Homo sapiens: one gene and its partners. The protein of the gene in region 4 purifies or fractionates together with the protein of the main gene of each other region. This does not show direct contact. Each region holds a gene or a part of one and is shown on either strand. Other genes may lie near its edges. The genes, in order: CYRIB, SFXN1, LRPAP1, CABCOCO1, SLX9 and TOMM34.

Region 1 (5,408 bases), on a different chromosome or scaffold from region 4:
GTACAATGTTGCTTTATTTCAGAGACAGTTTATTGTGGTAGAAAGAATAGGGCTTTGGAGTCAGAAATACCTAGCATTTACTAGCTATAACTTTGGGCTCTAAGTTCTTTGAAACTCATTTGATCCATCTGGAATGACCATGTCATAGTTGATGGTAAAAATCAAATGGGAGACTATATTCAGTGTACAGTAGATGTTGACTCATACGTAAATCTTCATAAATAGGAAAACTGGGGTTTTTTTAAAGTTACGGGCTGATGACCTGACATAAAGTTTTAAATTTATCATTAATATTTGTTTGTTAATCTGACATTTATTAACATCAGATCATAGTTTAACTCTGTAAGCTCTTATTTTCTCTGACCAGAATCTAGCAGCATTTTCCAGTTCTGTGATCTGTAACTGAATTCATTTGATTTCTATGGCTTTTTGAAATATTGAAATGAAATATTAGTATTTAGTATTTAATATTAGTATTAGTATTTAGTATTTCCATTATCAAACATGGTATTTATTAGCCTGGCATCCCAAAAGTAGCACTTATTTCAAAGGGACCATTTTGCTCACATAATGAATTAGAATATTTATATTGTAGTCTTGAAATGTCAAGTTCTAAGACAAGAAGCTTATTGAACCACATATTTTGTTCTCTTTAGTAGCTGAAAGCAAACAGTTTGTGGTTATAAATAAAGGATGTATTCAAAGTATGAGAAATTGGTAATTGATTCATAGGCATATACAGACAGTGTGGACACAGTGCCATTGAAGAAAGTTACTCAGCTGTAGATAATAGTTACCATTTCATAAAACCAAATTCCACACTGTGTGAAGTGATTAAAGTAATATAAAACTTGCCCTTTGGTGTTGAATTCAAATTCACTTCTGCACTATTTTCAATCTGGGTTTACAGAATTATAAACCCTTGAATTAGTCCGTTTAAGGTTTTTATTCTGTTAAATAGTATTCAGAATGTGTGTAGTACATTAGCAATGGCAACATTTAAACTTCTTAATTAGTTTTATTATGTTTAGATCATCTGTTTTTTAAAGAGAACTTTTCTGGGAATTAACATTTATGAATTGTTCACTTTTTAATAAACAAATATCACACAGATACAAACAACTTAATGTTTTTTTCAATTTTTTTCTTTAGAAGCAGCATTAAGAGGTCTTCTGGGAGCCTTAACAAGTACCCCATATTCTCCCACCCAGCATCTAGAGCGAGAGCAGGCTCTTGCTAAACAGTTTGCAGAAATTCTTCATTTCACACTCCGGTTTGATGAACTCAAGGTAGAATTATCTATTGGCCCTGATTGTTACGAAAATCATGAATCTTTTAATGAGTACTAGGAGGAAGAGCCGGGAAACATTGTTAAAATGTATTTAAATGATGTCTGCTAGACCTTAATAAAAATGCAAAGCTGGATTTAGAAATTAATGACGGGTCTTTTGATACATGGCAAAGAGCAAATTACTGAGTATTCGGTCTCAATCTTTTTTTTTTTTTTTTGAGGCAGAGCCTTGCTTTGTCACTCAGGGTAGAGTGCAGTGGCGTGATCTCAGCTCACTGCAACCTCTCCCTCCTGGGCTCAAGTGATTCTCCCACCTCAACCTCCCAAGTAGCTGGGATTACAGGCATGTGCCACCACGCCTGGCTAATTTTTGTATTTTTAGTAGAGACGGGGTTTCACCATGTTGGCCAGGCTGATCTCGAACTCCTGACCTCAGGTGATCCACATGTCTCAGCAGTCTTCATTTAACCTTGTTTAAAAATTAATCTCCGAAACAAAAGGTTGAGCTTTTTTTCTAATACTTTTTCTTTTCTGCTCACACCCTCTACCCCCGTTTTTCAACATTCTTTTATATTAAAATGTTGCTAAAATTTCTTTTTTCTCCCTTCCTCCTTTCCCGCTTTCTTCCTTTCTTTCTGTTTCTTTTTTCCTCTGTCATTGTTTATAGTGTTTGGAACTATAAATACCTTGTTGTTAAAAAGAATGAATGTAAAGGAATAAGCACTAGGTCTCATATCAAGAGACCTGAGTTCCAGTTTATACTCTGCCACAGTAACCCTAGTCATGAGACGTTGGGCACGTCCTTTGATTTTTCAGGGCCTCTGGTACCCTGTCTAGAAAATGGAAGAGCTGGATTCCAAACTTCAGCATTTTATAGTTGTATCACAGTCAGATTTGTATGTAAAATTCTAGTTTGAGGATTGCTCTGTTGACCATACCTACATACTTTTATCGTAATAACTAAAAACAAGTGCCTAAACAGTCCTTTTTGTTTTTGTTTATTTGATAAACAAGCTTTTAGTACATTACCTGAAATTAACTGAAAAGAAAAGGGAAAGTATACTGCCTGTGGTCTTTCGTTTTATATGTTCAGTAAGGACTAAATACAGTTATAAGCCACCTTGGATTATACCAGTGCTAGTTCTTAAAATGATACTATGAATTATGGAATGTTTTATACTAATTAAAACTAAAGATTTTTTACTTAGTTTTTTTACATTAGCATTTAGTACATAACATTTTTTTTCCACAACTGTCTTCTTCAGATGACAAATCCTGCCATACAGAATGATTTCAGCTATTATAGAAGAACATTGAGTCGTATGAGGATTAACAATGTACCGGTAAGTTAATGCTTTGAATTAGGGGGATGGTAAGAGTAACTTAGTGCTCAGCCTGTTCATTTTATTATTTTGTTTGTTCATTCAGATAGTGTTAAAGCTAGTAATAAAGTTAGTAATTATGGGCAGCCATAGCTGTAGGAGGAAAAGCAAACTGTAACAAACCATATGGTGTTTACCTGTTTTTCTTCACAGTCTCTTAAATTCCCACAACTACTTCAACAAAATTGCTTATCTGTATAACGTTGATCCTTATAAAATTTCGCGATGTACTCTCATTTTAACTGTACAGAAATTCTGTGAATTCATAGTTACGAGTTTTTTGTCTCTATATTCTTAGAATGGAAGAGTCTTGGAGAGAAATTGACGTGGGTTAATTTCTTGGAGAGAAATCTTGAACCCAAGTCCGTTTTCCTCCAAGAAATTAATGGTTAATGCTGGCAAGAGGTGATAGTGAGGTCATGGCCTGTTAACACATCTGTGCCTGATATAGCTGTTTGAGAAAATGGCTTTGTGCCTGCTCCTTGGCTAGTATAGCATTTCTTCTGGCTTCTTTAGGTCTCTTAACTTCTTACCATCCTCCTCTTAAGCTGTTTATTACTCTTTTCTACCTCCAAGGAACTAAATACCATAAGTAAAACTAGAGCGGAAGAAAATATTAACTTGTTCTCTGTGTTTCTGAGAACCTTATAATTGGTCTGAAAAATTTCAAAGATCAACCCTTGTTTCAAATAGATAGTTTAATAGAGAAATACTGTAACTATGTAAGGAGTAATAAGTGGCATAAGATATTTAAAATATATATATCAAAGACTATCATTCATTTTCTTTTTCCTTGAAAAAATATTTTAGGAAGCACTTGCACTAAGGCACTGAGTTGGAGGAAAAGATTCCTCTTTATGAAACATCTGTAATTTGCATCAATTTGATTTTTGCATAGACCAGTTCCTCGTGTGAGACTGACCTTAACATCTGTCTTTTTCATACCTACCATGTAAAATAAGATAAAAGCAAAAAGCAAAGCAGCCAATCCTATACTATACCCATCCTTGCCATCACTTAAGGCTAAAGACATTAGTCATCTTGGTTCTCCCTTTTACCCTCAATAATTACAGGTAAAATCCAATTTTTTTCAAGTGAAATATCTCTGAAATGTCTTCTCCATCCCCCTTTCCATCTCCTCCTCCCACTGTTCCAACAGAGAGCCTAATTCCCACTCTTTCTGGCAGTCACTCTGCACAGCATAACTCATTTTCGGACCTACAAGTCTTTTTCCATTTTGGTACAATCTGCCCACGATTATCAGTTAATTTTCTTTAGGAAACTGACTTAGTTGTCATTCCTTTCATCTAACACACTGAATGGCTCCCCATTCCACATGGAAGAAAAATATGAACTTAAGCTAGCATTTATGGCACTATACAGTCTGACCCCAACCTGTATCTTTCGTTGGTTGCAGCCCCTTATTACACTGAATATGCTGAATTACTCTTTAGGGAGTCATTTGAAAACATACTCTTTCCCCTGCCAGATTGGAATACCTTGTTTACCTGCCCAATATGACCTGCAAAAGGATAACTCTTCTCCTTAGTTTCTTCTGTTCCAACTTAATGTTCTCTGACTCCCTTTTTGTGTTATCACCTGTTAGAATCTTACCATGGATGTTGTATGGATACTTATTGTTCATAATGGAGGACGGTACAATTTTATAATCATTTTTCTGTCCTCCATAACATTTAGAATCTCTTGTATGTAGTAGACAGTTCATCAAGGTTTTATTTAAATTCTTTAATATCATTTAAAATATTTTTGAAGAGGTTAATCTTTTTTTAAAAAAAATAACTTTTTTTTAAAAAGAATATTTGAGTATTATCGATACATGAGAGTCTAAAATGTAATTGAGGCAGGCACCCTGCCTGGGTCCTTGTATAATTGTTATTATATGTAATAATTTGTGAACTAACATCCAGTGCTTTTACCTTCCCCACAGGCAGAAGGAGAAAATGAAGTAAATAATGAATTGGCAAATCGAATGTCTTTGTTTTATGCTGAGGCAACTCCAATGCTGAAAACCTTGAGTGATGCCACAACAAAATTTGTATCAGAGGTAAGCATTGCCTAGGCAGGTACTCTGTGTTGTTATTTATGCCCCTGTTGGCAGACGTGATGTCAGCAAGCCCAAGACATTAAATACCATCTTGAAACCAACAGACTCCCAGATGTATGTGTTGAGTCCTGACTTTTTTCTGAGGCCCACATGTGCACACCTGTCCACGTATTTGCAGTTTCTCTGGAGGGATGGTGGAAACCTCAGTGATAGCTGATGGCATGGCCAAACCAAACTCTGGGTTGCGTTTTCTAACCCTGCCCTTTCTTTAGTTTTTGCTTTCTCAATTAACAGTACCAGTGCAGGCAAAAACTTACAACTTATGTCATCCTAAATTCCTTTCTTTTTTTTTTGAGACAGAGTTTCACTCTTGTTGCCCAGGCTGGAGTGCAATGGCGTGATCTCAGCTCACCACAAACTCCGCCTCCCGGGTTCAAGCGATTCTCCTGCCTCAGCCTCCCTAGTAGCTGGGGTTACAGGCATGTGCCACCACGCCCGGCTAATTTTGTATTTTTAGTAGAGATGGGGTTTCTGCATGTTGGTCAGGCTGGTCTCGAACTCCCGACCTCAGGTGATCCGCCTGCCTCCGCCTCCCAAAGTGCTGGAATTATAGGCATGAGCCACCGCGCCTGGCCATCATCCTAAATTCCTTTCTATACCTCACTCCCTA
Region 2 (3,342 bases), on a different chromosome or scaffold from region 4:
GGGCCAAGTGCCTGATACTCCCTTACACTGAATCATGTTATGATTTATAGAAATACCTTTCCTGTAGCTTTTATAGTCATTGTTTTTCAAAGACGATATACCAGCCCTCACCCAGGTTTTAAAAAAGCACTGGTAGGCATAGAATAGGTGCTCAGTATATGGTCAGTAAATGTTCTATTGATTATCAATCAGTGAAAAAAGAAATCTGTTTAAAATACTGAATTTTCATCTCACTCCCATTGCAAATCAAGGAGATCTCAGCAGTGAACTGGGAAAATACAAAAGCTCTGGGCTAATCTATAAAAACTTACCCTGAAATATTAAGGGCAGTTTGCTTCTAGTTTGGGGATTGCGCTAGCCCAATGAAGGTGATGAAGCTTTTGGATTTGGAGGGTAAAAGCTCCTTCACACCCCTTCCAAAAGTCAGTCACAGACCACTGCAACATGCCTTCCCTGCTGGATCATTATATACATTCAGATTGTGAGTGGATTGCCTTGGTTGACTTTTAATTTATTGTTTTTTGTTCTTATAAAGATGATAATCTTACCTTGCAGTTATTGACTTTATATTCAATTATTTACATCAAATAATGAAATAACTGAAATGTACAAATGTCAAATTTTGGAAGTATATTCAATACCAATGCTGTATGAGTGGGCTGAATCCAGTTCATTGTTTTTTTTTTGGTAAGAAGTGAGACTACAGTTCCAGCTACCTACATGTCTTTTCTTGTCATCCTTATAGATCTCTTTGGCTTTCAGAAAGATACAGTGATAATGTGTGTATGAATCAGTCACAATGAATTTTACTTGAATATTGTATGTTGCATTCCACTTCATTTGAAAATAATGAAACCATGTACCACTGTTTACATCATCTGTAGTGATTTCATAGATAATATATTTAATATGACAGATTATGTTTCAACTCTGTAGATGTTTAACGTCATAGACAGTTGGCCCTCTGTATCCGTGAGCTCTATATCTGTGAATTCAACCAAGTTTGGATGGAAAATTTTTTTTTTTTTTTTTTTTTTGAGACGGAGTCTCGCTCTGTCACCCAGGCTGGAGTGCAGTGGCGTAGTCTCGGCTCACTGCAAGCTCCGCCTCCCGGGTTCACGCCGTTCTCCTGCCTCAGCCTCTCTGAGAAGCTGGGACTACAGGCGCCCGCCACCACGCCCGGCTAATTTTTTTGTATTTTTAGTAGAGACGGGGTTTCACTGTGGTCTCGATCTCCTGACCTCGTGATCCGCCCGCCTTGGCCTCCCAAGGTGCTGGGATTACAAGCGTGAGCCACCGCACCCGGCCTGAAAATATTTTCTAAAAAGATAAAAAATATACATAACGATGAAAAATAATACAAATTTAAAAACCAATACAGTATAACAACTATTTACATAGTGCTTACATTGTATTAGGTGTTATAAGCAATCTAGAGATGATTTAGCAAGTATACAGGAGGATGTGCCTAGGTTATATGCAAATACTGTGCCATTTTATATCAGGAACTTGAGCATCTGCAGATATTGGTATCGGAGGGCGGTCCTGGAACCAAGCATCCACGGATACTGAGGGGTGACATTTCATGAAGTGTAGATCATTGTATTCAGAGATTGTAAATGAAAAAAATATAGAAACTATTTAGTTTTGGTAGATTTTTTTTCTGACAATGTGACCAGACTGAATTTCCTCATAAAGAAAAAATGGCGTGCCTTGTGTCTGTGTTTCTCTTTTCTCTGAAAGGATTAATAGATCTGAAGCTTTGGGCCACTCAGAGCCTTCCTTGATGCTGCCAGAGTCTTCTTATTTAGATTTTCTGTCTTAAACCATTGGAAGCAAAACGGTTTTCCCATGACATTCTGGCCTTGGACAGATTCTGTTGTCCTCGACGCGTCTCTTTATAAAGTGGTAAAAGCCTGAAATTCAGGGCAGCTCTCCATGAGGTGCTGAAGGGCTCTTTTCATAAGAAGCTAAGGCACTGCTGCCTGCCCCAGGTGTCCCGCTCCTCTCAGAGTCCTCCCCCTACCAGGTAGTGTGTAGCTCCATTTCAGAATGTTAACCTCCAGTGAAGAGCTAATGACTGGTTAGAAGATTGACAAACTAACCAAAATTTTACACACTCCGGTTATGTGTGTGAAAGGTTATAAAAGGAATGGCCGGGTGCGGTGGCTCACCCCTGTAATCCCAGCACTTTGGGAGGCCGAGGCGGGTGGATCACCTGAGGTCAGGAGTTTGAGACCAGCCTGGCCAACATGGAGAAACCCCGCCTCTACTAAAAATACAAAAAATTAGCCAGGCATGGAGGCACATGCCTATAATCCCAGCTACTCGGGAGGCTGAGGTAGGAGAATCGCTTGAATCCGGGAGCTGGAGGTTGCAGTGAGCCAAGATCGCACCATTGCACTCCAGCCTGGGCAACAAGAGCGAAACTCCATCTCAAAAAAAAAAAAAAGAGATTATAAAAGGGATGATGAACATGGAGCTGCATCTTTTTAAACGTTGTTTTTTGATGCTTCAGACTCTTAATGCTTTTATATAAAGCTATCAACTGTATGTTGATCACAGTTTATAAGAAAGAACAAATCAAGATTGGCAATCCTTGCCGATCTTTTAGAAATACCTTTTCTGGAGAAAAAAAAATCCACATGAAGTGCAATAAGCTTATAAAGCTAAGTAGTTATTAATATTTCTATTAACATGATACAAAGGATGATGATTGTAAGTGTTTACTGACTGGCAGCTTTTATTTCAGTATTAGCACAGCGTCTTGCCAGTGTTGGAGGCCATGTATTATTTCAGTTCAACTGGATGAAATGTTAAATAAACTCAGAATGAAAATAAATTCTCTCTTTTATTTGTACATAAAGGATAAAGCAGTTTGTGTGTTACAACTGATGGTACTTTTCATTCAAAGTTAATATCTACAGTACCATCAGCAACTCCTAATGAAAAGATATTTTTGTATTATGCCTTTAACAAGAAATATATTTCTATTTTGGGCTACCAGTCTCCCACCTTTTTGAACCTCATATACATAAAGGCACACCCACCCACCCCCCAAACTCCTATGACAATGTGATTCCAGGAATATTAATGATGGGCGTGGGGGATGGATTTCAGCTTGAAACTTGGATGGCCAACACCTCTGCACATGACGGTGATGGAAACATGCTTCTATATTATTGATCTGATTCTAACCTGGCACTGGCATTTACTAACAGAGAAAGTCTAAATTAACCTAAGTTTGGGGAGTGCCTTAATAAAAGACTTGATACAGAGCTGAGCATTTTAACTTCCTTGGCCATGTTTCTGCATTTGTTTTGCTACAGTAACTCTGTTGTC
Region 3 (5,408 bases), on a different chromosome or scaffold from region 4:
GGCTCTTTCTGCCGAGCGTGCCAGGGCCCAGGGTGGTCAGGAGGCAGGAGGAGCCACAGTCAGTTCAAACGTAGGGGGAGAGAATTGTTCGTGCAAATAGTCACTCCAGTCGGCTTCTTACCCCACCTGACTCGCCGCTCTAGGTAGGTATCAGACGGAGACGGGGTCTTGGATCGCCCCCTGGAAGATAATTGAGGTGAGGGCTGCTTTTTCAGAGAAGCACTTCCTGCCCGGCTCTGCAGCCACTGCTCTCAGCCTCCTGCGACCTGCGCTCAGCAGCCAGGACGGTCTTGTCCTTTCTTTGGTTTGCTTCATGAAAACATCGTGTCCCTGTTTTCTGCATGTAAAGCCACATCCTGGCATATAGGATTGCGTAGTGTGTCAGTAGGCATAGGGTGAAGGGAGCGTTTCAGGAAACCTTTGCCTTTGATGGGCTTGGGCTGTGAGACCTGCGTTGAGGTTGCCGCCAAGAAGATGCTGAGACCCGCTTTCATCAGGCGAGACCCGGCCAGGGGGGTGCTGCTTCATCCTCTCCAGCAACTTGAATCTTGACTTTCTGTGACTCTCCCAGTTCCTCTTTCACAGGCGGGCTCCACTGTGTTGCAAGACTCCTGAGCAGAGGCTGTCCCTGGAGCTTTGGAGGTCAGAGGCCATGCAGAGCCCTTGTGCTCACAGACGACTTCTGAGGACTCTGCCTCTTCAGAGCTCTGTGTGTTGTGTTGATGCTGAGGAGTAAGCTCCAGGGTCTGCATGGTCCAGCTGCGGCGCTCAGGGACACACTCGTGTACCTCTTGGCCTGGGCTGCACGGTGCCATGAGCTCGGAGTCCTTGGCCATAGGTCCTTAGTTTTTTTGGTTTTTTGTTTTTTTGTTTTTTTTGAGACAGAGTCTCACTCTGTCGCCGAGGCTGGGGTGCAGTGGCGTGATCTCGGCTCACTGCAACCTCCGCCTCCCAGGTTCAAGCGATTCTCGTGCCTCAGCCTCCTGAGTAGCTGGGATTACAGGCATGCACCACCATGCCTGGCTAATTTTTATATTTTTAGTAGAGACGGGGTTTCACCATGTTGGCCAGGCTGGTCTCGAACTCCTGGGCTCAAGTGATCCTCCCGCCTCTGCCTCCTAAAGTGTTGGGATTACAGGTGTAGTCCCAGGAGGCACCGCACGCAGACAGTCCTTAGTTCTGACGTGAATGGTGACTGCAATGAGAGTGTGTGAAGCATCTTGTTCTCAGAGGTCTGACGAGTGGAAACTGAGGTCTGCAGAGAGGAGCCCTCAGAGCCCCACCCCAGCTCTCAAGCGTCCCCCCTGGCTTGAGAAGGGCCTCTGAGGATGGGCCAGCCAGTGGCCTCCATGGGCACCTAGGACTCGCCAGGCCAATGCATGACCTCACAGCAGCTCAAGGCGGGTACGGCTGTGCCCTTGTCCACGGAGCTCAGGTGGAAGGAGCTGGGGCACAGTGGCTGGGCTGGGACAGTGCATGCCACCTGCCGTGGTGAGACAGGTACAGCGTGCCAGGAAGCCTTGGTCACCGCCACAGCCTGCTCCTCATGGTGGGTGCCTTGCAGTCTGGCGCGGGCACTCAGGTGAGCGCTGGGAGGATGGCACATGCCCTCTGAAGAGGTGGTCCATTGGCGGTCCTGGTGGCATTGGAACCTGCCCAGCCTGAACTGTGCGGTGTGTGCAGGTTGACACCAGTGGTGTAGCTGTGGACCCTGGCCTGGGTTTCCTGGGGCGTTGAGAAGCAGCAGCAGGTTATTGGAAAGTTCCAGAAAGCTCTGCTGGCACGCGGGTGGTGCTGTGTGGGGAAGGGCCACTGCTGAGGTCCCAAGCAGTGCTGGGCCCTTGGGTCTGGTCAGGAGGACACGGTCGGCTCTGCTTGTGTCTGGGGACACAGGACCGGCGTCGTTTGATCAGCTGAGCCGGCTTTCTTGCCTGCATGTATACCCTGGTTGTTGATGATTTGCCTCGCTGCTTCATGTTTGACAGGTTCTTTTCTGCAGTTGGTTTCCACAGGGTACTTCTAACTTGATGCGTTAACATTTAACTTGAGAGAGGTGAAAGAATCCAGACGTGGGGTCTGGGGTCTGCACGTGACCTGCTGGTCTTCCTCTGCACAGAGCTGGGGCTGCTTTTTGTGGTGGTGCTGCCAGGCTGGCCCCTTCTGCGCTGAGCACTGGCAGCCACACATCAGGGGAAAGGGAGCTGGCTTTTGTGAGACATGCGGTGTGAAATTTAGACCCCCTGTTGCCTGAGAGTTGGGGAATCAGAGGGAGAAAATGACTTTCCCCTGTGGGTTGCAGATTTTACAGCCCACAGAGCACCTGCCCTTGATTCTCCCAGCACCCTAGGGAGGCAGACAGGAAGCCAGTGAGGACTGCAAGTTACAGGGGTTGGTGCCTGGCTGTGAGCCTGCCAGGATGGGCCCAGGACTTCAGCAGCCCTGGGTCTTCAGCTCCGCTTTCCAGCAGGCAGCCCATGGGCAGTCATGGGACACCTGCATCCTCTCCCCTGCAGCCAAAGAGGGCAGACCCGGGGCCCCTCAAGGCCAGCACACACTTGAGAGCATGGGCCTGAATTGCCTGCCCCAGGGTGCTGCTTCTGGCTCAGACCATCACTGTGGGCCTCGCATCTCAGACCCTCCCGGGCAGTGCAGCACGGTAAGTAAGGCGCCTACAGGGTAGCAGCAGCCACGGGGAAGTAGAGATGGAAGCAGACCTGTTCCTCCAGGAGTTTGGGTCACAAACAAGATAGGCAGGTGTGGGCTCCCCCTCCTCCTGAGGCACCGACTGCCCCTCCTGAGAGTTCAGCGTCACTCAGGTGCCTCATTGTCCTGGGTCCTCCTGCTGGGAATGCTCAGATCAGACCTCAGGTCTCCTAGGGCCTTCCAGTGGACGCCGCAGGCAAGTGTCCAGGGCACAGAGGGGCACGGGGTGGAGCTCTGGGGAGAAGGGGCTGGGTGGATGGGGCTGGCTGGGTGGATGGGGCTGGCTGGGGAAGAGGCACACAGGTAGGGGTGTGTCGAAGGCTGCCAGGGAAAGGGTTTTCAGGTTGGGACAATCCTGGAAAGCAGCCCCTGCAGAGATGGGGGCGCAGAGCATCTACCAGGAGGGCCCAGACAAAAGACTGTCCTGGGACCACCCACTAAGGGTTAGAGAACCTTCTAGAGAATTAGAAGCTTTCCTCTGCCCTAGGCCCTGCCATTCATTTTGTGCCTACCGTTTGCTATCTTTTTACCATTGGGGATCTTGGCTCAGTAATCTGAATTCATCCCTAACTAAATTTTAAACTCCTGGAGGGTGGGGCCTGTGTGGCTAGGGCAGCCACAGAGTCAGGCTGGGCTTCTGAGAGAAGAGAGGGCGGAGCTGACAGCCCCAGCACCCAGCTGGAGACAGGGCCTGTGGTCAGGGGTCTCCTTCCTCCCAGGCCCAACACAGACTGAGCTGCAGGGAGCAGGATGGGCTCAGTCTAGATACAGGCAGAGTGAGGCGAGGAGGTTCCGGAGTGTGGGGTGTGCCAAACACACAGAATTGGCTTCGTGCGAGTCTTGAAAGAAACGTGTGCCCCTGCGCGGCGCGGACCTGAGGGCTGGGCCTCCTGAGGTCTCGGGCTGCAAGGCAGTGTGGGCCACAAGGCGGCGCGGGCTGCGGGACACTGGGAAGGCAGCCGGCTCTTGACGCTTCGTGGGGATGTTCACTGTTTTACGTAAACTTTATTGAAATATAACACACATACTTTGGATACTAGCTTGTGTTGTATTTATGTTAGAAAATAGCTAATGAAATATAGATAAAAGATTAATATTTCAAACGTCTAAGGGAAAACAGACTCCATATTTAAACACACATGATCAGAGACAGGCGTTAGGTGATGGGCACCTGGAGCTCAGAGGCAGGAGCTGGGGTTCCCTCCTAGAGCCACGGGCAGCTCATGAGGACCAGCCCCGGGGGAATGTGAGAATGCAGGTGCTCAGGGAAGGGGACCCTCCTGAGAGCCGAGAGATTTGGGGATCTGCACTGCACAGTGCCGAGCACTTCCTTTGCTGCAGGACTCCACAGAGGCTTTAATGCGCTGGCGTCACTACAGGCATGCGGTGCAGCCTCCCCAGTTAGCCAGGGACAGCACCCTGTCTCCGTGAACCCTGGTCCCACCTCATGACACGTTCTGGTTCACACAGCTGGGCCACTCTGCTCTGCACGGAAGAGCCTTCGCTTCCCTGAAGGGCTAGCCTGCCCCAGCGCACGCCTCTTAGCGGCCGGGCCAGCCCCGAGGCCAGAGTTGATGAGAGCTGGCCGGTGGGTTTCATTCTGCTGCTTGCCTCGGCCGCCTGGCATTCTGGCCCAGTCTTTCTGACGTGGGGACACTCTTGGCCTAAATCCTGTCTTTGCAACCAAAAAGCAGTGTGCCCAGCGGTCACCTCACTTGCTTCCTTCTCTCACCCAGGGTCCCAGAGCTGGGAGGGCAGGGGTGGGATGAATGAAGCGTGGCCTGCCCTGCGGAGAGGGATGAGGGTGGGGCGGGGAAGTTCCTCAGCCCCAGTGCGGCAGCTCGTTCCGGGGCGCTGCCTGTGTGGTCTACGCCAGCAGGTAAGTGAGAGGGTGACAGATTCCTGCTCCAGAAGGATCTGGGGCTGTGTAAGAACCGTCTCAGCAAGACAGTTCGGATCATGGTACACTTGAGAGGTGGTGACTGAGGGTCTTTGGGAAATGAAGATGGGGCAGATCTGAGATTACAGTGATTTTTTTTAAAAAAGAACTTCTAGGTGTCTGTGTCCTTGCAATATGTATCTGCAATGGTAATGCAGTGGGTATCTTCTTCCTGCTCTGTTTATCCGAGTGCCCGATGACTGTCCTCAGGTGCTAGGGTGGGGTGTCCTGTTACAGCCGGACAGGAATGAGCAGCCGCTGCTGGTGGGGAGCCCCCGATGGACTTGGGGTTTCCGGATCGTGTATACAGACAGGCCTAGAGACTGGTGTCCATGTTGAGTTCTTGTCTAAACCTGTGGGGTTTGAATCCTGCTGACAGTGACCCTGACTCCACCTCTTCCTGGTCTCCCAGAACCTCCCGGTGGCCAGCCTCCTCCGAGGTCAGTTTCTCGCTGTGTCCTGGTCCGTCCTGCTCGTGGCTCACAGGCTCCTCCCCTTCGTTCGCAGCTGCATCTTCCTCCCGTGAGGCTGGCCGAGCTCCACGCTGATCTGAAGATACAGGAGAGGGACGAACTCGCCTGGAAGAAACTAAAGCTTGACGGCTTGGACGAAGATGGGGAGAAGGAAGCGAGACTCATACGCAACCTCAATGGTACGTTTGTTTCTTTCCTAATGCAGGTCGAGTATCCCTCTTCCTAAATGCTTGAGAGCGGCAGTGTTTTGGATGTCGGATTTTGTTTTTGGATTTGGGAATATTTGCATTATG
Region 4 (5,246 bases):
TCCATGAATGTAATAACTGGTTATTGTGTAGAAGGGCAGAGAGCAGTTGAATTAAGCTGAGTTCAGAACATATCTCCTTTTTAGATCTGATAACATTTCATCTAAATATAGTTTATGTATAATCATGGCTCTGGGCTCCTTTGCAATCCTACAGCTCTGAAATTATTGCCGAGGAACTACCAGACAGTAACTGAATTGTTTGCAGGCCCAAAAAATTGAAAACGTCTTTACCAAAGCTGTGTTCCATGCAGTGAACAGTATGTTTTAACTATTCATTGAAATTATTTTAAATATTACAGTCTGCAGCATTTATACCCCTATTCTATATGATAGCTATGTGTCTGTATGTTATCTTCCCATTGGCCTGAAGCCATCCTGGAAGTTCAATAGCTTGCTCACCTAAATGTAATTAGGCATGGAGAGGATGTGGACCAGAGGACAGGGATGCAGAACCGCTAGGTGCCACAATCATTTCCATAGTAAGTGGATTTGTAGACATCAGCCTGGGCCAAATTACTGCCAATTTTTCAATGAAATAGCATGATGATGTGGATTTATACAATGGCTCAAGATGGCAAACCCCTTTATGTATTTTCTATCAGTAATCCTAGTAAACTCCATGTGAGTTAGGCAGGCACTTCCCCTGATAAATTGAAAAATGGGACACAGAAAGACTTAAGTTATTTGTCCAGAGTTCCCAGGGTTGACAACTGATAAAAGACCCTGAATGGGAGCTGTGACCTGGGTTCTAGTTCTAATTCCAGCGTTATCCACAAAAACCACATAACTTCTAATATCACAACCAGACTACTCTGGATTTTAATACTCCCGTGGTGTGGCACTTTTTCCACGTTTACCCTTGTGTCTTGGTCAAATTCCAAGTTGGGTAATTACTCTCTGCTTACCTAAATTCCTCCTCCTATTTTAGATGTGTAGGTTATTTTCCACTTCTAAAACCTGCCTTCCAGTGTTCCTGGCTCTAAGAACTGCCATATCCCTTTTCAAAGGTAGCTATGTGTCAGTGGTCAGTGTATATATGCTATTTGAACACACCGACCTGCTGTAGGAATATTTAATGAATCACTACTCGTAAGATGTTTTAAATTTTCTCACAGATTTTTTTCTCCTACTTTGTTTAAAAGTCATACTGTTATTACAATTTTTGCAAAAAAAAGGCAGTAAATAATTCATGTTTTAAGTACAGTTGTTTTCAAAATTCCTTTTCTATGTGGTTTCAGGCATATTTTACCTTCTCTAATACAGAAATTTCTGAAAATGTAGTATGAATCCATAAGTTTTTTATGTTAATTCACTTATTTTCCCATTGACTCACTTTATGGTTTTAGAGATTTATTAAGAATGAAGTTATCTTGGCCCTGAGATGTTAATTAAAATTATACTGAATAGAGCAAACATTTTAAGCCTGTATAGTTTAGGTATTTTAATTTTAAAGATACATTCAAAATGAAATTATTTTGGCCCTGAGTTGTGTAATAAAAATTATACCCAAGGGAGCAAACTTAAATATATTTAAAGAATTACATTTCAGAGAAATATGAATGCTAACACTAAATTCTTACATTACATGTTGGCTGTTGGCCCTGTGGAAGCAATAGGGTAATATAATATAAAAACTTTGAGGGAAGTTTGCCATCTTGGGACCCTAGATGTTTTTAGGTCAACTTGAATTTTCCAGGTTAGAAAAGCTGAGCATGAAATCATCTCAAAGAAGTGGTCAATGAGAGACTACTGAACATATTTTTTTTCCTTAAAAAAAAAAAAAAGAACCAGACCCAACCATAGTATTTGCAGGATTGCTTGTCTGTTCAGCAAAGTTCTGAAGAATGACAAGGAAACACGGCTAATGACAGCCTGTTATTGACTAGACGTGGAGCCTTTAGATCCAAACTCTGCTGGTTGTGACTGAACTAAAGTACTAAGCCTAAGGTCTGGAGATCTGAGACATTACTCACCTCTGTCAGTATGCCACTCTCTTAGCTGCCCCTTCATGAACCTTTTCCCAAGGCCTACACTTGTTTTGATAAATTCTGTCTCGGTAAAATACCAGAAAGGCCTCCAAGTGAATGTAAAATCCCTATGTGGTAGTGAAACAGAAACTGGTAGATGATAAGCACATCAATCCTTAGCTGAAAAGAAATGAGATTACTGGTGGGCATAGAGGGACATTAATTGAAAGTGGGAAGAATCGATTGTTTGAGTGGCGCAATTCTTCCCAATCCTTTGAAATTGTGGTAAAATTATTTCAAACCATTTTAATCCCTATGTGGTCCAATATGTTGTATCCCATAAATTTATTTTAATAAGGCAGGAGTAACAGATTTTTAAGTATTTCATGACATCATAACAATGAAAGATAACATTGGTGAAGTATATCACAAAATTGGAAGTTGGAATTATGAATTCAAAAACTAAAGTTTGATATTAACATAATCCTATTCCCCTACTTAATTTTTAAGGTAAGAGCTAAAATCCAGGTGGTGAAATGACTTACCTAAGGTGACGTAGCTGAACTAGTACCTAGATCTTCCCAGTCCAAGATCAGTGCTTCTTTCGACCCTACCTAAAATCATGCATAGATGATGATTTCTTTAGAGTCAGTGCATCCTAAAGGAAGAGTTCCTCTGTGACCTGGAGGACCGCTCCATCCCTCCTTGCCTCCTCCACCCAACCACCAAGAAAGGAAAAGATAAGAAACCAGAGGCCGGAGCTTGATCCCAAGGTTTACTAAAGCTTGAACCAGAAAAGACTGATACTTATGTGAGTTCTGAACCCAGAATTGTTGGCACACATACGATCTTTCCAGAAATATCAAATCTTACTGTGAGGTGAAATCAAATCTCATCAGATAAGGCAGCATGGACATGTCACAACTATCTGTTATAGTTACACTCTTGTAAATAAATATGAAAAATTATATCTGGGCTTAAAACAGTATTTGATTTTTTTAAATGTCTTCTATCTAAATTAAAATAATAAAAGGTTTGCAAAGTACAGTTACCCTGAAGCCCTCAAATAATGTTATAGCTATTAGAAATCCAAACTTTGAATTTATTAACACATATGTGTATAAGCTACTCCTTATACAGCGGTAGACATTTTAAAAATCACCTAAACAACAACAAAAACATCAATTTTGCCACGTCAACCACCACTGCTTTTTCTGTATGTAATTTTATTATCCCTTGTGAAAAAGGGAAGACATTTCCAGGGCTACTAATGTTCAGTTAATGTGAACGTATTTATGGAATTGTGCAGGTAGCAATGTGAGTCCACAGAAGATCGCTGCCAGAGGCAAAATGCTATCACCACCTCGGCAATCACAAAACCTGAGAGCAATTGCTTACTTTTTTTACCAAAAATATATCAGAAAGTGGCATCATTCCAAGAGTTCTAATGTATGATGAATACTCTTAATTATGGGAGTTGTTCTAATTGTAAGGTTATTTGTGTTGTTATTTCACAACAGAAGCTTCCTGGGATCTCATTTAGAATGTATTACACGGGAGACACAGACATCCATTGCAGATGGTGGAGGGACCCACAGCACTGCAATAACTGAGCCCAAAGCAGTTATTCTGATTCAGTGCTTATTGGTAAAGTCTGTCTGAAAATACAGATAAATTATCCTATCTTCCAACACAAGGCTTTGTGAAAAATGGCTGTCCAAATACCACTTCCTGTTCATAGCAGACATGCTATACATTGGAAATGTGCAGAGAAATATGATAAAGTGTTATCACATCACTACAGGCTGAAACACAGCTATGTCTGCAAAACAGGAAGGTGTGTGAGGGATAATATCTGTCTTTAGGCACTATAGTATGTCAAAACCACAAAGACAATGTGCAGCAAAAGATAGCTCCATCATAACCACGTTTTTTATGATTGTCTTCACAGACCGAGATAAACGAAAAACTGCAAATACAGGAAGAGGCCTTTAATGCACGAATAGAAAAATTGAAAAAGGCCTAAGGACTTGGTACAAGGAGAGTGATGCTAAACTTCACAGAAACAAACAAAACCAGCCAGAATAACAGACTCTCTGGAGCGTCGTGTCTCCATCACTTAGTTGTGAAAGGAAAACCAAGCCCCACTTTTTATTTTCCTAAGTAATTAGAAAAGTATTGGTCCCAATTTTGCTATCTCCCATCCCATAACAGCCTCTGAATTTATTGCACCAAGTGTAATGAGAACATTTTGTATACAAGAGTTTGAAAAATTATATATAAAAATACAATTACTTTTATGATAGTCCTTTGACGTTTTGACTAATAAATCCTATTCATCTTCAAGGAGAATGAAGTCAACTTTTTAAATAACCAGAAATAAAGAAAGATGATAATAACTTCATCCATTTTGACCCAAACGGACTGCCACGTTACTGGAACACTGTGAAAACATACCAGTACCACACTATTGAGGATAAAATTTGTTAAACAATAGCAATTCAAATGCATATATGAGGTTTTTTTTTTTTTTACTGAAATCATTTGGTTTTCTTATTTAAACGTTTCAGTGTGAAACCAATTTTCTGAAATTATATAATGCAGTTTGAAGCACTTTAATTTATTCTGTACTGTATTTGTTATTTCTAATCTTGTTACTCTCCCAGGAGAATACATGACCTATATAAAAAGAAGCAATGTATAAATGGTTATTAAAGACCAACCTATATATAGATTGTAAAAATCTTAAATACAAATCAAACTCATAGAGTTCCCAGAATTAGCCATTATATTGAAGTGGAATGATTTTTAAAAATCTCAAGTCTTTAAATACCTTTATTAAAATATAATTTCAAAAGAAAAATATCAATTTGCCAGCTGATTGTCCCCAGTTGGACAAATTAATTAATTACTACCGAACTCTTTTCCAAAGTTCTTATACTTCAGAGTTTACTGGAATGGAGAGCATTGCTAGGAGGTAGCAGTTTCTTCAAAAATTTTCCAGGCTATACAGTACTTGGATCTGGGTGACACTTGATTGGATATCAGCTTTAACCCTACTTTCTCCATCAGTTCAAAGAAACTGCCCAAACTATATTCACTGGGGGCACAGGCAGATCTGACAGCATTTGGTAATTTTCTAACTACACTGATCAGCAAAGTAAGAGTACCCCTTGAGGTAAAACAATGTTTATTGTTCCTGTAGTTCCACAACTAAAAGGTCTGGAGATGTGTTTCTTCTCTGAGCTGTCCTTCCTGAATGAAAACGTTGATGGCTGC
Region 5 (5,130 bases), on a different chromosome or scaffold from region 4:
TTGGGGAGGAAGCCCCCAGAGGCGAAGTGCCACTGTCACTCCACTGTATTGGGCACACCCTGTCACCTGACTCACCGTGAGGCTGAGCTGGCCCCTGCTGGGTTGAGACCCCCCCTCCATGCTGTCCGCTTTGGGAGGAAGTCGCTCTGCAGCCCTGGCCTCGGGGTGGGGGTTGTGCTCTACCTCCTGGAAGACACAGCAGTGACAGAGACTGTTTGGAATCCTGCTGGGAAAGGAGCTTTGTCTCTTCTCCCCGTGTATGTGTCGCTCATGCGCCGGTGTTGGTCTGGACAGATGGATGTTTAGTTTACACACAGCGTTACTTGATTTTGGTGCCGAAACTGTTCCAGCATTGGCCGCTGGGAGTTCTTGCAGTTGCCCCCAGCTCCCTTTGGCCCCATTGACGTGGGGGTCGTATTTTTAGCTCTTTCCCACTGCCGAGCACCAACAGGTAACCCAGGCGCATCTTGGACATCTCCTGCCAGTCCTGCTGTTTCTCTAGGGAGCCCTGGCCCCTGTATTGCAGGAGGTGTGAGACCCTGAGATCTGGGGCTCGGTGCGCCTGTCCCAGGATCTGGGGTTTGGCGTGCCTGGGCGGCGGGCCGTGTCTCTGGGAACTGCATCTTGGTCCCGGCAGGCAGGTCTGCCCCACTGACCACCACTCTTGGACTCTGATGTGCTTTGGGCTTGAGGGGTCAGCAGGCGAGCACCAGTGGCCTGGGAGGCTGGAGGGTGGACAGCCTCTCCCTCCCAGCCTGGAGCTCTGTCTCTCACTTCTCCCCTTCCCACCTAGTGGGGAGAACATATGGCTTGGGCTGGCAGAGCTGTCCTTGTGGAACCCAAGCATTGGGTCCTTGCCCCACGGCCCCTCCCAACCCTCAGTCCCCTCAGTCCCCTCCCAACCCAGCTCCCTCAATCCCCTGTCCTGGCGCCCTGCCCTGAGGGCCTCATGCCCCTGGGGTGCAGGATGCAGAGCTGGAATCTCAGAGGCCAGGGCAGGGCCCGTGTTTGGGGTCCACGTCACTCCTGGCTGGGAAGCAGGCATCGAGCGACACTTGACTCCGGTGACCCCCATGCTCTGGACCTCCACCTCCTGTGTGCGCTTTGTGGGCAGTTGTCGGGAGGGGACCCCCCATGCTGTGGACCTCCGCCTCCTGTGTGCGCTTTGTGGGTGATTGTCGGGAGGGGAGTGGTGGTGACGCCGCTGCTCCTGCCTGGAGGGAGTGCCGTGGGGGCTGGTGAGGGTCCACACTGGGCGGAGTTAGGCTCCAATTCCTCCTCGGCTTCCTGCTGTTAGGCCTCGTGGAGTCGCGTCCCTGCCGGTGCTTGCCCTTGGCCCATGACGGTAACCGCCCAGCACTCTGTCCCCGGGGCCCTGAACTCCGGAAACCCCACTGGGTAGGCTGTGCGTCCCGCCTGGGAGGATGGGGTGTGGGACGCGTGGGTGGGGGACGGTCCCCGCAGTGGGGAGGGGAGGTGCCGCGCCTGGCCTCATGGGCACTGCAGCCACCCTGGGTGCAGCTCCTCTGCTTTGGGACCTTGGGAGGCATTGGTCCCACCCCCACTGCTAGTTCATCTCTTAAAGTGAGGGTGCAGCTCCAGGGCCCGAGGTTTCCCCAACCAGGAAGGATGTCCTGGACCCGGGCTCAGGTCTCCTGACCCAGCACGTGGCTGCCCAGAGCCCTGGCACCAGGGTGCACCTAGAGGAGGGGCCCCACGCTGATGGCTTCTGCAAGGATGGGGACCGGGGACAGCTCTGGGCAGTCAGTGAGGGAGCTGCTGCTCAGGGGTGGACACAGGGAGGGGGTCGGCTGGCCAGGGGGGCAGAGCTTCTGCATCGGGGCAAGGCTGGCCCAGGAGAGGCCGTGGGGAGATGTCGTCAGCCCCGGCAGAGCCCCTGCAATGAATGGAGCTGTGGCTTTGAGCGGGCAGAGGGGACGGGAGATGCGAGGGGCTGTCATCTGCCAGTGTGAGCAGGAAGGGATGGGGACTGATTCCTTCCCCAGATCAGCGCAGAGCTAGGGTTAAAAGAAAGCGGGTGCTGAGGGCTATTTTGGGCAGACACAAAATGTCTGTCATTCATATTTTAAGAGATCCATGAATAAAAGATGAAGTCTCCTGGCCCGAGGCTAAGTGTAGGGCTGGTCTGAGGACTCTGCGTCTCTGCCTTCCCGCCGTCGTCTGGGTCCCATCTCACTGTGTGGACGGCAGATCTGAGAAGGCGCCTGGTGTGGCCTTGCGGGTTCTCTGTTCCTTTTAAGGCCCAGGTCGCTGTCCCATGTGAACATTCGGCCAGGTGGGCGGCTGCCTTGGCCGGCTGACCACAAGGAGTGCAGGCGAGCTCCCGAAGATTCCCACGGTTAACTGAGGGTGAGAAGCTCCGCGGGCAGCCGGAGCCTGCCTGGGGTGGACGTCAGAGATGAGAGTGTCCTGGCCCGCCCGTGCCCTTAGTCAAGGCCCAGCTTGGTGGTTTGGAGATCCCAGGACTAAAGGAAATAGCCAGCAGCACTCAGGAAACCTCCTCAGTTCCTCCACCTGTCCATGGGGGACTGCAGTGCTCGTTGGCACCCCCCGCAGGTGCAGGCAGGGCAGGATCTACGGTGGGTCCACGCCCCTGTCCCCAAGTTCAGTCATCAGGAGGGCAGGTGCAGCTTCCCACTGTAGCACAGCGTGCGCCTTCTTCTAAAGAGAGGACCTGGGGACATGTAGGCTTGGGTGGGTGACTCAGCCTTCCTGGGAAGTGGTGTGTACTGCGGGAGTGGGACTGGCTGTGCCTGCCAGGGTCCTTTGGCCCGAAGTGTGAGGTGTCTGCGCAGCCTGCCCTGGCCAGGCAGGTGGGGTGGAGACGCTGTATATCGTGAGACGTGTTCCTGGCTGACCACTCCCTCCATGTCCCATGGAGCCAGGAGGAGCTGCAGGAGTCACCAGATTCCACACGGAGCAGCTTGGGGCCCGCGGTCACAGGACGGTCAGGCAGTTGCACTGCTTGTCCGGGGCGGTCACAGGACGGTCAGGCAGTTGCACTGCTTGTCCAGGTCTCGCCTCCATGGCCACAGTGCAGCTTGGAACTTGTGGTTCTGCAGTGGTTTGGTCACCTCTGGCCACCACGACGTCTGCTCTAAGAAGGGAGGAGCCAGCCTCTGCCCACGGGAAGGTGTTTAGGGGATGCTGGATGCTGACTCACGTGGCTTCTCTGTGTCCACAGCAGGGAGAGCAACAAGCCCCGGCCCTCAGAGCTCAGCCGGATGAGCGCAGCCCAGAGACAGCAGCTTCTGTGAGTGCACCTGCCCACCTCCTCAGGGGTTCAGCTCCTGAGTGCCCTCACCCTGCCCACCCTCTCCAGGGGTTCAGCTCCTATGTGCCCTCACCCCGCCCACCCTCTCCAGGGGTTCAGCTCCTGAGTGCCCTCACCCCGCCCACCCTCTCCAGGGGTTCAGCTCCTATGTGCCCTCACCCCGCCCACCCTCTCCAGGGGTTCAGCTCCTGAGTGCCCTCACCCCGCCCACCCTCTCCAGGGATTCAGCTCCTGAGTGCCCTCACCCCGCCCACCCTCTCCAGGGGTTCAGCTCCTATGTGCCCTCGCCCCGCCCACCCTCTCCAGGGATTCAGCTCCTGAGTGCCCTCACCCCGCCCACCCTCTCCAGGGGTTCAGCTCCTATGTGCCCTCGCCCCGCCCACCCTCTCCAGGGGTTCAGCTCCTGTGTGCCCCCACCCCGCCCTCTCCAGGGGTCCTGAGTGCCTCCAGCCTGCCCTCCCAGGGGTTCAGCGGCTGAGAGCCCCGCCCGTGCCTCTAGTCCCCTCCACGCTGCTCCGCTGGCTCCTGCCTGTCTGCTCCAGGGGGGCTTTTCAGTGCAGTCAGGTCCTGTGGCCCTGGGTCAAGTCCCGCCTCCCAGGAAGGCTTCCAAGGGGAGTCATGGATCTAAAATGATGGGTGGACGCAGCCCCATCTCCGCCCCTCCCCTCCGCTGGCTGGTTGAAATCTGGATGATACGTTTGGTTCTGTGACTGGGCACTGCGGCCCCCAGTTAGCAGGGCTAGGACACTGATTTGCAGAAATTTGTACTCAGTTGTCCTCTTGGGTACAAAAATCTCCAGACCACGCACGCTCTCTTGCCTCTTTGCAGACTCAGCTCCAGTTTCCACTGAGAGAGCCACATTTTACGCCCTTGTAAGATGGTTTTAGTTAGCTGCTGGGATGATTTTTCCTGTGGTTTGAAATGGCTTTACTCAGGTGTTTATCAGTGGGAGCGTTTTGTGTCAGTTCTACCGAGGCCCATTGTGCCTTTCCAGTTGAGAGTCTGAAGTCTGTTTTGTGAGTTCGATTATGCTTAGAAGCTGCTGTCTGTTTTGTGAGTACAGTTATGTTGGGAAGCTGGTGTCGAATGGTAGCTCCAAAGATTTCTTTATTGTCTCGGCCCTTCTTCAGGGGCACCAATTATGCACTTACTGGATCTCTCTAATCTATCTGTCTTCCATCTCATGTTCTCTAATCCATTTTTACTCTAGACACTTTGTAGGGTCTAGGTGAAGTATAGATAGTATAGTAAACTGTCTTTTTTAGTTTTTTAAAAAGTTTTTATTTTTATTTTTTAGAGACAGTTCCTTGCTCTGTGGCCCAGGCTGGAGTGCAGAGGTGTGATCAAGGCTCACTGCAGCCTCCGCCTCCTGGGCTGCAGCGATCCTCCTGCCTCGGCCTCCTGAGGAGCAGGGTCTTCCCGTAGATCTTTGTGTTTGTCCTCTTTGGTTTCTGCTTCTCTGTTTATGAACTGAGTTCTTCCCAGGCCAGTCTTGTCTGGAGACAGTTTGCGAACAGCAGAGCCCTCTCCGTGTGGCCATCGTCCTGCCTGGCCTCCCTCTCCGCCTCTCCCCAGTGCACAGCCTGGTCCGGGGAGCCCCTCCCTGCCTGGACAGGGCGACGGGTTTTCCTCTTGCAGACTGTCTGTCGCCCGCACCCCTCGGTGCCCCCATGTCCTTGCGGTCGCGGCATTTTGAAGCAGCTCAGGTTAACGGGTCTCCTGGTTTCATCAAAGATGGAGTTTGGTTTCTCGCTGCTTCTGAGAGGAGAGCAGGAGGCCCCTTCCTTGTTCACTCCGTGTTTTGGAGCCAGAGGTCTGTTCCCTTTCATGTCCA
Region 6 (6,038 bases), on a different chromosome or scaffold from region 4:
TGGGCCTTGTGTTAAGGCAGTAGAGATAACTATAACCTGTTCAGGCTTGTTGGTCTGCTGGGCTGGCGTGTTTGTCATTCTTATGTGACAGAAGGACACTGCGCTTTTTGCCATTCAAAGGGAACCAAGTATTTCCTCATTCACTCATTCCAGCACTGAACTTGATAACAGACAAAAGATAAACAAGAAATAGCTAGCTTCTGCCTCAAAGAAATCCATGCTGTAACTACTTGGGTTTGGGTGGATAAATGGATGGATAGGTGTGTATTTTATTACAAAAAGCATTTAAATCCAAGAAAGAAAGAAAAAAAAAAAAAGAAAAGAAAGGGAGGGAGGGAGGGAACAAGATGATAAACGTATGATAAATGGATTGACCAAAAGTTGTAGGGGCACAAAACACCCATGAAAGACATGAGACTAGTTTTACCTGGTCAAGCCAGGGAGGACTTTGTCAGGGAAATGATAATTGAGCTGGGTGTGATGGGAGTACAGAGAACTTAATCAGGAAAAAGTCTTAAGCTACCCCATGGGGAGAATTATTAGACATTCTTCTAAGGCAGTCCTTACCCTCAGGAATCGCAGAGGCTCAAGTCCTTCACTGTGGCCACCATGATCTTTATTTACGTATTTTTTTTTGAGACAGAGTCCTGCTCTGTTGCCCAGCCTGGAGTGCAGTGGAGCGATCTCCGCTCACTGCAACTCCACCTCCTGGGTTCAAGCAATTCTCCTGCCTCAGCCTCAGCCTCCTGAGTAGCTGGGATTACAGGCACTCGCCACCACGCCTGGTAGAGACAGGGTTTCACTATGTTGGCCAAGCTGGTCTTGAACTCCTGACCTCAGGCAATCCGCCTGCCTCGGCCTCCCAAAGTACTGGGATTACAGACGTGAGCCACCGTGCCCAACCAACAATGATCTTTATTTTTAAAGATAATTTTCAACCACTTCATACCCACTAGTGTCGGCCATTATTTTAAAAAGAATTGAAAACAGGGTCTCTTTTTGAAAATTTTGAAACATACAGAAGACCATTATCTCAGAATCCACCACTAGATTTAGCACGTTATATTAGTTCCCAACTTTTTTAATTTTTAGAGACAGCGTCTCCCTCTGTTGCCCAGGCTGAAGTGTAGTAGCACAATCATAGCTCACTGCAGCCTCAAACTCTTGGGCTCAAGTGATCTTCCCAGCTCAGCCTACCAAGCAGATAGGACTACAGGTGTGTACCCCCAAGCCCAGTTAATTTTTAAAGTTTTTGTAGAGACAGAGTCCCACTGTGTTGCCCAGGTTGGTCTTGAATGCCTAGCCTCAAGTGATCCTCCCGCTTTGGCCTCCCAAAGTGTTGGGATTATAGGCATGAGCTATGGCACCCAACCCTTAAAAATTTTTTTGATAAGCTAAAACTCCAGCCATCCCCATCCTTATCCCTGTGCTCCCTCCCCAGACTCACAGAGGCCAGTACAATCCTGAAGTTGGTATGTAACATTTTCAAGCATGTTCTACATTTACATATATATGTATATATGTATATGTATATATGTATACATGTACATGTATATATATGTATATGTATATATATGTGTGTGTGTGTGTGTGTGTTAACAGGAAAGATACCATTTTATGTCTATTAAAGCATTTCCTAAGAGGCATCATATTGCCTATCCTTCTGCAACTTACTTTTTTCACTCAGTATCCTGTTGCCATGTTGATATTTGATATCTTTCATTCAATACCAACAATAACAAGCGTTTTCCCCTCTTGTTTTGCCAGGCCCAGAGACGGAAAGTACAAAGACTAGTAAAATACATCCTTGCCCTTAAGGAGCTAAGTACCCAAAACCTGTAATCCATCTTGAGTCACCAGAGTACGGTTGCTCAGAAACAGCAGTGGTGCGGTGGAAAGGGCATCAACCCTGCGATCCGGACAAGTCACTCCATCCCTCTGATCATGCGTGCCCACCTACCACATGAGGATATCACTTCATAGACTTGCTGGAAGGGTTCATTGTGTTAGCCTGTTCCCTGAGCTCTCTTCGTGATCAAGAAGACTGATCAGATAAATCAAGAGACTTGCCCAAAATTACCTAGGAAATCTGTAGCAGCAGCAGAACCAAACTCCGGTCCTTGCTAAATCTAGATACCAGGCTAGCTTTTCTATGGACCCAGAATTAACCCATACAAATGTACAAGCTTTTCCAGACCAGCTGGGGTGAGATGAATGAAAATGGCAGCAACATCAATACCTCAGCTTCTTCAGCAACTTCATCAAGTAAGGCTGCCATGAGGAAGTGGGCCTAAAGGAGAGTTTTCTAGAACAAAGAAGGGGGCAAAGGAGTGGCTTGAAACTGCAAAAAGTGCAGACAAAAAAAAAAAAAAAAAGAATGAAATCTGGAGAGGATGTGAGGAGAGGTCTAGCAAAATGATTAAAAATTTGGACTTAGCATCAAAGTCAAACAGATCCATATTCAAATCGTGGCTCTTCCATGTCTTCACTATGTAACCCCGAGGGAGCCAATTTAACTCTCTTGGACTCCTCCTTTCTAAGCATTTTATCCACAGGGCCATAATAAAGATCAAAGGAGATCGTGTCTAAAATGTCTAGCACATGGTAAATCACTCAAGAGATGCTAGCCAAGAAAAGGAAAAAAAGGAAGGCGGCAAAGGGAAATAGGTACTGAACGGTGACTCACAGAAACCAGGATCCAAGGCTCCTTTCAAAAGTCAAGGCTTTAACCAATGAGGGTTTCTGATTAAGTCACCCTGGAGAAGGGGCTTTGGGCAAAGGTCTGCGGTATGCTGACGAAAGCTGGACGCTGGGAGAACTGGTAAGAATATGCTATTCTTCTGTTTCAAACTCTCCAGTAGCTTCCCATCCAGCAGCTTTCATGCCAAGCTTCCAGTTTGGCATGAAATCCGAACTCCTTAGCAGAGTTTACAACACCTCCACAATAAATAAGGGTCTGCCTTCCTAACTGACCTCATGTCTTCCTATTCCCTGCCCTGGCTCACTATGCTTTGACCCCTGAAACACACCATGTTTATATCGTCTTGGAGGGGGGGCCTTTCTCATTGCAGTTCACTTCAGGACCGAAAACCTTGTGCGCTTGGCTTCTCATCATTTAGACATCACCTCAAATATCACTTCTTTACAGATGTTGCCCTTGATCTCCCACTCCAGTCAACTCTATCACATCACCCTATTTGTCTTCTTCCTAACCCTGATTATCCCACAGGTCTCGTTTACTTACTGACTCGCTTAAGACTCACGTCCTCCCCACCGCCCCCACAAGAATGCGCTGTCCTTGAGAGAAGGGACTTTTTGTGTCTTGTTACACAGGCGGTATATAACAGCTACTCAACAAATACTAACTGAAAAATGAATTGCTGCGGGGGAGGAGGGTTTAGCTTTCTTCTCAGGGCTCAGAACGAGGCCTAAATAACTTAGGATGGGGGCCAACAGGGCAGTTAACAAGCAGGTGGAAAGAAAGGGCCGAGGAAGTTTCTGGTAGGATGCCGGAGTCGGAAGGGGCTGGAAGGGTGGGAGGGCCGGGCAGGACTGCTGGCCGCCGCGCGAGGCCCGGGCGGTGGTTGCGGGAGTTGGAGGAGCAGGCCCGGAGGTGAGATGGGGGCCGGGGTCGTACCTTGCGCCTGCAGCACCCGCAGCGCGCGGCCGTAGAGCGCGGAGGCCTCGGCGTACTGGCCGTTGCGGAAACTCTCATTGCCGGCGGCGCGGAGCTCCTCCACAGAGTCTGGGAATTTGGGGGCCATCCCGTGGCCAGGCCGGCGAGTTGGGAGCTCCTTCCTTCCTCCCCCGTGTGGTGCGGCACACCTTCCGGGCGCAAGCGCCGGCGGCGAATATCTCCGCCCAACAGCGAACCCGCGGCGAGGGGGCGGGGCCTGCGAGACCTGGAGGCCCGGAGCGTCCCGCCCTCTGCGCGTGCTCGGTTTGGAACTTAGGCTCCCTTGCACGCGGGGCGGCAGCATGCTCTGGGCTCCCTGAGTTGCTAGAACGCCGTGGATGACGCAGGGAAGGAGGCTGGCCCCGCTATCAGGGAGATTATGTCCTAGTGGGGTCCCCACAGGCAATTAACTGATAAGCAAACGAAGACTCTCATTTCATGTGATTAGTGCTGTAAGGAAAACAAAACAGGATAATGCAATGGAAAGTGACCACGTGTGGGCTATTTTAAATAAGGGGATGAAGGAAGGCCTTTCTCAGGGGGTAATAGTTGAGCTGAGACCAGACAAGATTTAGGGAATGCTGTTCCAGCCAGAGGGATGGTAAGTGCAAAGGTTCCAAGGCTAGAAAGTACCTGGTACCTAGTGCTCTATAGATATTTATTTAATAAATTAATGCACAGGTGGATTGATGGTGTCAAAGTCAACATATAGAGATGAATCTCTAAAGTTTAAATATTTTATTTGGCAATCAAGAATTGCAATTCAGGGCTTACACACAGACCAGGTTGTCTTTGGTATGTCAGAAGAACAAAGAGAAGGTTTGGAGATTTTTATAAAACAGAAATGTTACATATTGCTCTTCAAGGAAGTTTACAGGCACTAGTAAAGTGGGGGTTTATCAGCTTCTTGGGGAGCTGGCAAGCTTTGATTGGTAAGTGATAGTGGTGGATAAAACTCAGAATTGTAGCAGGCTGTTTCAGTAGCTATTAGATAAAACTGGTTTTAGGTTACAGCAGGCAGTTTTAGCAGCCAGGCTTGCAAAAAATTACTTTTTTGGAGCAATGTTATATGCCCTGAGTATTTGTTCCCCTGGCTTTTCAATTCTGTCTTAGTTGGATATGACAAGAATGACCCAATTCGTATGATCAGCTTTCAGAATGGATGAAGATCTTTCACAGAGTGTGACTTCAATTTATCTCCAGCCTCATCTGACGACTCTATGTCCCACGCATTGCTATCTACACACACTAAATTCTTGCTTCCTAGCCTTTGCTTGTTATCTCCTTCTCCTGGATTTTTTTTTCTAAATACTTTTTCTCCTGCCTAATCCTGAATTAACTTATAACATTCCATTCAAACATCATCTTCTCTGAAAGCCTTTCCTGCTTCCAGCCCCCTCCCCACCCCCCACTATGCTCCCTTTGCTCCCTATTGGTCTCTAGCTTTATCCCTAACTTTGCATTAGTCACCCTTTGATTGCCAGTTTGTAGTTTTCCTTAAACACTGCGAGGTCTTTAATGGCAGGAAGTGGGTCCTTTTTATCTTTGTTTATCCAAGACCCTAATAGGGTCTGGCATCCAATAAAAGTCATTGATTGATAAAGATCTAGTCTCTACCTTCAGGAATTCAGTTATAATGATCTGCATACACTTAACTCCACCAGACTATAAGCTTTCTGAGGGCTGGATGGCTGTTCCATCTGAAATGCTTCCCCTTGCCCTCTGCCCCGACCAAGGATGAACACTGACTGTGGTGGGAAAACCAGATGAGGCCCATGCTGCTGGCTGGCTACTCAGTGACTTCCATCTTTGCTTCCAGGAGCCTGAATTTTGCCTGAGACTCTCCCAGCCTGGGGAAGTGAATCAGGATTGCTCTAAGCCAATTAGAAAAATGTCATTTTCTCTTGCCAGTGATTCATCAAGGGATGCACATGTGATGCTGATCTGGGCAATGAGATAAAAGGGAGTCTGAGGCTGGTCGCAGTGGCTCACATCTGTAGTCCTAGCACTTTGGGAGGCCGAGGCGGGTGGATCACAAGGCAGGAAATCGAGACCATCCTGGCTAACACAGTGAAACCCCATCTCTACTAATAATACAAAAAATTAGCTGGGGTGGTGGCACGCACCTGTAGTCCCAGCTACTCAGGAGGCTGAGGCAGGAGAATAGCTTGAACCCGGGAGGTGGAGGTTGCAGTGAGCTGAGATTGCACTGCTGCACTCCAGCCTGGGCGACAGAGCAACACTCCGTCTCAAAAAAAAAAAAAAAAAAAAAAAAGAGTCTGCTGAGTGTTTATGGGAAAGGTTTCCCTCCCCATAACAGAGAGGTACTGGGTCAAGTAGCCATTCTTGCTCTTTTTCTGCT

What was found.
Region 1: the proteins of CABCOCO1 (region 4) and CYRIB purify together in Homo sapiens (affinity purification with mass spectrometry; one large-scale study listed by BioGRID and IntAct). This does not show direct contact.
Region 2: the proteins of CABCOCO1 (region 4) and SFXN1 purify together in Homo sapiens (affinity purification with mass spectrometry; one large-scale study listed by BioGRID and IntAct). This does not show direct contact.
Region 3: the proteins of CABCOCO1 (region 4) and LRPAP1 purify together in Homo sapiens (affinity purification with mass spectrometry; one large-scale study listed by BioGRID and IntAct). This does not show direct contact.
Region 5: the proteins of CABCOCO1 (region 4) and SLX9 purify together in Homo sapiens (affinity purification with mass spectrometry; one large-scale study listed by BioGRID and IntAct). This does not show direct contact.
Region 6: the proteins of CABCOCO1 (region 4) and TOMM34 purify together in Homo sapiens (affinity purification with mass spectrometry; one large-scale study listed by BioGRID and IntAct). This does not show direct contact.

What each region holds. Positions count from the first base shown.
Region 1 is NC_000008.11:129,851,492-129,856,899, reverse strand, and holds part of CYRIB (CYFIP-related Rac1 interactor B), read left to right. Parts: intron 1-1,152; coding exon 1,153-1,289; intron 1,290-2,556; coding exon 2,557-2,634; intron 2,635-4,621; coding exon 4,622-4,738; intron 4,739-5,408. UniProt on the Homo sapiens protein: Negatively regulates RAC1 signaling and RAC1-driven cytoskeletal remodeling. Regulates chemotaxis, cell migration and epithelial polarization by controlling the polarity, plasticity, duration and extent of protrusions.
Region 2 is NC_000005.10:175,526,901-175,530,242, forward strand, and holds the end of SFXN1 (sideroflexin-1), read left to right. Parts: 3' UTR 1-2,842; downstream 2,843-3,342. UniProt on the Homo sapiens protein: Amino acid transporter importing serine, an essential substrate of the mitochondrial branch of the one-carbon pathway, into mitochondria.
Region 3 is NC_000004.12:3,524,793-3,530,200, reverse strand, and holds part of LRPAP1 (alpha-2-macroglobulin receptor-associated protein precursor), read left to right. Parts: intron 1-5,149; coding exon 5,150-5,294; intron 5,295-5,408. UniProt on the Homo sapiens protein: Molecular chaperone for LDL receptor-related proteins that may regulate their ligand binding activity along the secretory pathway.
Region 4 is NC_000010.11:61,762,021-61,767,266, forward strand, and holds the end of CABCOCO1 (ciliary-associated calcium-binding coiled-coil protein 1), read left to right. Parts: intron 1-3,918; coding exon 3,919-3,993; 3' UTR 3,994-4,746; downstream 4,747-5,246.
Region 5 is NC_000021.9:44,969,992-44,975,121, forward strand, and holds part of SLX9 (ribosome biogenesis protein SLX9 homolog), read left to right. Parts: intron 1-3,205; coding exon 3,206-3,274; intron 3,275-5,130. UniProt on the Homo sapiens protein: May be involved in ribosome biogenesis.
Region 6 is NC_000020.11:44,956,570-44,962,607, forward strand, and holds the start of TOMM34 (mitochondrial import receptor subunit TOM34), read right to left. Parts: upstream 3,829-6,038; 5' UTR 3,765-3,828; coding exon 3,638-3,764; intron 2,969-3,637; exon of another isoform or gene 1,768-2,968; intron 1,739-1,767; exon of another isoform or gene 1,724-1,738; coding exon of another isoform or gene 1,675-1,723; intron 1-1,674. UniProt on the Homo sapiens protein: Plays a role in the import of cytosolically synthesized preproteins into mitochondria. Binds the mature portion of precursor proteins. Interacts with cellular components, and possesses weak ATPase activity.